Regions from separate parts of the Homo sapiens genome. Here region 2 is linked to region 1. Evidence: fine-mapped expression QTL. Tissue or cell type: whole blood. Region 1 holds a variant in brackets; the other region holds the start of a gene. All regions are shown on one strand. Distances are between the middles of the regions.

Region 1 (2,844 bases):
TGTGTTTTAAGTGCTGAGGGTACAGCCGTGAACAAAACAGACATAAATTTTTGTCCTCATGAGACTTATATTCTAGTGAAGATAAATAATAAATTGTAAAATAATATGCGTGTGGGTGTTTATTCTTACATATTTGTGTATGTATTTTATATATTTTTTTCTTACATGTGTAGGGGTGTGTGTATCAGAGAGCGAGAATGACGGCATGTTGAAAAAAATTAAGCAAGGCTAGGAAGAGTGGGTGGTGAGGATGGAGAAGATTGCACTTTTAAATAGGTGAGTCAGGAAAGGCCTAAGAAGGTGACATTTGAGCAGAGATCTGACATTTTCCACTAATAGGGAAGAAAACCCCTATTTCTTCCAGTGAAGGATTTATTAAGGTAATAATAATGAAAAGAGAAAGTCTCTATTTCTTCCTATTTAGAATAATATATGTATACATAAATACATATATATACACACACACATATATACATATATACACACACATATACATATATACACATACACACACACACACACACACACACATATATATATATACATACATACACACACCTATTTTTTTGCCTACAATGGATATATTCATCCTGGAGGAATACCTTTTTTTTTTTGAGACGAAGTCTTGCTCCATCACCCAGGCTGGAATGCAGTGGCACGATCTCAGCTCACTGCAACCTCTGCCTCCCAGGTTCAAGCGATTCTCCTGCATCAGCCTCCCAAGTAGCTGGGATTATAGGCACATGCCACCACGCCCAGCTAATTTTTTATATTTTTAGTAGAGACGGGGTTTCACCATGTTGGTCAGTCTGGTCTTGAACTCCTGACCTCAAATGATCCACCTGCCTCAGCCTCCCAAAGTGCCGGGATTACAGGTGTGAGCCACTGCACCCAGCCTTGTATTTTATATACCTGGGAGCTAAAATTTTGGAACATATTTTAAAAGTACATAAACCCAGAATTCTTCCTTTTGGCACCCATCCATTTTTACTACCCTGAACACCCTACCAAGACCATCTAAACTCATCTCCACACCCTTCCACCCTAGCCTGACAGCGAGTCAGTCAGTGCAGGCCCTGTTCTGGATGCTATGGAATATCCTGAAACCAAACATCTTGTGTAACAGTTGAAGTGAACAGGTGCTCATGTAAAAAGGTGATCTTAGAACAC[G/A]TACAGAGCAGCTTTATGTGAAGCACAAATCAGTATGAGCAAACCAAGTCTATAAGTGCTGAGAGAAGGTCTAGGAAAGAACATAGAGTCAAGTGGGGTGCTTCAGAGAAGGCTTTCTATAGAAGGCTGGGAGGAAAAGCCGTGGAGTGGTTGGAGAGGTTGGGAGAGGGTGCCTCTAATAGAAGGGAAAAATTCTGAAGCCCAGATGAGCACATTTTGCTTTAGAGGCTAGATTGAAGATTAGCTTGGCTCCAGCAGTGGCAATGAGCAGGGGAGATCTAGACAGGAGGTGAAGTCCACCCGCCCTGACACATCTCTGATCTCCGCCTTCAGATGTGTCACCGGTGGTGGCCGGCCTCATCGGGGCCTCTGTGCTGGTGGTGTGTGTCTCGGTGACCGTCTTTGTCTGGTCATGCTGCCACCAGCAGGCAGAGAAGAAGCAGAAGAACCCACCATACAAGTTTATTCACATGCTCAAAGGCATCAGCATATACCCAGAGACCCTCAGCAACAAGAAGAAAATCATCAAAGTGCGGAGAGACAAAGATGGTCCTGGGAGGGAAGGTGGACGTAGGAACCTGTTGGTGGACGCAGCAGAGGCTGGCCTGCTAAGCCGAGACAAAGATCCCAGGGGGCCTAGCTCTGGATCTTGTATAGACCAATTACCCATCAAAATGGACTATGGGGAAGAACTAAGGAGCCCTATTACAAGCCTGACCCCTGGGGAGAGCAAAACCACCTCTCCATCATCTCCAGAGGAGGATGTCATGCTAGGATCCCTCACCTTCTCAGTGGACTATAACTTCCCGAAAAAAGCCCTGGTGGTGACAATCCAGGAGGCCCATGGGCTGCCAGTGATGGATGACCAGACCCAGGGATCTGACCCCTACATCAAAATGACCATCCTTCCTGACAAACGGCATCGGGTGAAGACCAGAGTGCTGCGGAAGACCCTGGACCCTGTGTTTGACGAGACCTTCACCTTCTATGGCATCCCCTACAGCCAGCTGCAGGACCTGGTGCTGCACTTCCTTGTCCTCAGCTTTGACCGCTTCTCTCGGGATGATGTCATTGGCGAGGTCATGGTGCCACTGGCAGGGGTGGACCCCAGCACAGGCAAGGTACAACTGACCAGGGACATCATCAAAAGGAATATCCAGGTGAGTAGGAAGTGTGTGTTGGGGAGCAATGGTAGGTTGGGGGAGAAAATATCTCAGGGGATAAATGGAAGTGGGAGGGGAGTGGGTTGGGTGGCAAAGAAGGGCTGTAGAGAGGAAGCTCTTGGATGTCAAGGATAAGCAGTGGTCAGAGTAAGACAGAGGGCCTGGCAGATGAGGTCTCCTCTAAGAAGCAACTTCCTGGTGAGAGAAGGTTCAATAGCTTTCACCATTTCACTTAGTGGTTGGCATCCTGATGCTGTCCAGCTTACTTGGAACAGGCTGGCCTACCATTTGTAGATCCTTCATTATATCAGGGATATGGGAGCTAATTTCCTCTCCAAAATGATGTGATCTTCCTCCAGTGAATTTATTTTTCACAGCTGAGAAGCTATGACAATAATTCAGTAATTTTTCCCTCAGCTTCCCTTTCCCAACCCTAACCTAGGGGTGTAAATGATACCATGTACATGTCTTTTTTTTTTTTTTTTTTTTTTTTGAGACAGAGTTTCACTCT
Region 2 (2,500 bases), 610 kb before region 1:
GCCAGTTCTTTCCAGCTCTCCCTCCTCAAATCTCACCAGAGAGCACTGTTGGAAGTCTCGGGCCAGTTGAGCATTCTTACAGGAGAGAACAGAGCCAGCCATGCTAAGCATGACACAGAGCACCGAAAGCAAGGAGAAGAAGGAGATCTGGGGAAAACAGGGTGCAGACTCAGGGCTGGGACCCTCATGAGTACTCCTCTGCCACGGACAGAGTCCCCCTCCTTCACAGACACTTCGTGCCCACCCGGCTGGCACCAACTGGGGAGCCAGTTCCCTTCTTGAGGACATAAATGGGCTTCCCCTTGCGTGCTGGGCACCTGCCTCCCAGTGGGCACTGGACCCTGGCACCTACCACTAGAGTGAATGGCCGCTTCCAGGACACAATGCCAACCACCCCGGAGAACGCCAGCTGGGGACAGAGTGGGCACAGGCTCAGCCTGGCAGGGGAGGCTCCTGAGTGAGCCCCTCACCACAGGATGCACCCAGCCCTGTAAGGAGGCAGAGGACCAGGAGAGGGAGGAGAGGCAAGCATGTGGACTTGCAGCTGGTGTGGAGGGTGGGGCCCGAGGAGCCTCCCCCACCCAACAACTGTGCACCCAACTCACCGAGAACCCAGCCCAAGACGGGCAGGACCTCTTGATGCTCTCGGTGGTGGTGACGGAAGAGGCCACCATGCTGAAGGTGACCACCAGGATGCCCAGGAGCACTTGGACCAGCCCCAGCGTAAGCAGGGCCTGCAGCCAGGGTCGGTGGAGGCGGAGGTGGGTAAGGCCCCTGGTGCTGGGCCGGCTGGTCAGCGAGCGGCTGGAGTCACTAGGCGAGGGCATCATGCCTGCTGCCCGGTTGCCTGCGCCTCGCTCGGCCCTCCCTGGCACTTGGGAGCATCTCAGAGGCGCCCAAGGCCCCGTCCTTTCTCCTCTCCACCCCACTCGCTCTAGAGCCCACCCCCTGGCTGGGTCCCCTGGGGCATGGCCGAGGGACGCCAGCTGTGGGGGGGGCCAAGCGAGGGGCGTCACGGAGGGACCGCGGAGTGCTCCCTCCCCACCACGGGCACTGGACGGGCACCGTGCCCGGGGCGACGATGAGGACGCGGGGGCACCGGCTCATCGCATCTCCCTAGGGAAGAGGGGCACCGAGAAGGGCCGGTCCAGGAGTGAGGAGGGGGCGGCGGCCTGGAGCCCAGGGAGGGGTGGGGAGGGTAAAAGCGGGAAGGATGGAAATAAGTCTAGAGAAGAGGGGAGGGGTCGGCGTGGGGTGACTCTAGAGGCGCGGTCGGTGTGCCCTCAGGGCGTCCAGTAGGATCCGGGGCCGCCTGGTGGGGAGAGGCCGCGGCGCCGCTGTCTCCTGTGTCGCCTGTCCCGCTCCCCTCCCCACCACGCTCCGCTCCCCGAGCTCCGGCTGCCGCAGGTCGGGGACTAGAGAAGGGGGATGGGAATGGGGATGGTGCGGGAAGGAGGGGCATGGCGGCGAGGGCCGGCGCGGTGCACCCCGGGAGTTGTAGTTCGGGACTGAGACCCTGTCGGGGTTGGGGGATCCCGCGGCAGGGCGAGGCAGTCGGATAAGCGCTCCTCCAGTCCCTGCCTCGCTCTGGACCCTGGCTAGGCTGCTAGTGATCCTTTGGGCCTCCACTTGAGCCCCATCCAGCTTTTCAGGCTCCAGGCCCGCGTATTCCTTGGCGTTCCCGGCAGAGGCGGTGGCTCTTCCCCGTCATTAATGGAGAGGGGTGGGGAGCAGGGCTCCCTGGCGTCTCCGGGTTTCGCGTTTCCGTGGACTTCCCACCTCCTTCCTGCGCCAGCCACTCGGGCTCCACCGCCCCGCCCCTCATATCTCCCAGTTTACACTAAAGCCGGGTCCGACCTTCCCACCTCACTCCACACTCTCCTTTCTCTTTCATAAGGCCTAATTCCCAATGAAGATTCAGGAAACGGGGATGTCAGTTCCAGTTCCACTTTCTTTTTATTTAAATAACCGAAGCAACAGCCGTGGCACAGCAGAGGGAAGCTGGGTTGGGGCGTGTGAGAGGTGGCAGCAGTGTGGCCTGATGGGGGGACTAGGTCACAGTGAACTCCCCACACGCCTGTCAGGTTCAGCAGTCATGGCCATAGGATTGGGAGCACTACGGAGGAGCCATCAGTTAGTGATGTCTCTCCAAGTCCCAGAGACCTTAGGGACGGGAGCTAAGTCAGCTCCCTCAAGTAGCAGGGCCAGGGCATCCCAGTCAGGGGTCACGGGGCCCGGAAGGCATTTTCAGCAGCCCCAGCGGCTGCATTGGCAGCTGCGGTTCGCACCGCAGGGTTGGAGAAGACACCAGCAGCAAATTCTTGCTGGGCCTTCTGAAAGCTGGCACCTGTGCGGCGGTATAAGGAGTGGATCTGCAAGTAGAGGACAAAGACATTACCGCCCATTCCAGCCACTGGTTCCCCACCCCAGCCTAACAGCATCACTACCACTCAGCAGCCTGCTGCCCAGCACACACACTCACACACAGAAACACACACCC

The links. PIP is the estimated chance that this variant, and not a neighbour inherited with it, causes the effect.
Region 2: it holds the start of ENTREP3, and the variant in region 1 is fine-mapped to the expression of ENTREP3 in whole blood (TOPMed, PIP above 0.99).

The regions. Positions count from the first base shown.
Region 1 is chr1:155,866,462-155,869,305 of GRCh38, forward strand. It overlaps SYT11 (synaptotagmin 11), which reads left to right. Exons shown (of 4, transcript NM_152280.5): 2 at 1,504-2,330. Among named protein-coding and RNA genes, the nearest start is that of SYT11, 8.3 kb to the left of the region's middle. The variant G/A (reference allele first, on the strand shown) is at 1,171.
Region 2 is chr1:155,254,048-155,256,547 of GRCh38, forward strand. It overlaps ENTREP3 (endosomal transmembrane epsin interactor 3), which reads right to left and starts at 1,436. Exons shown (of 12, transcript NM_006589.3): 1 at 606-1,436; 2 at 353-409; 3 at 37-147. The coding sequence starts at 830. SCAMP3 (secretory carrier membrane protein 3) reads right to left here. Exons shown (of 9, transcript NM_005698.4): 9 at 1,934-2,372. The coding sequence ends at 2,226.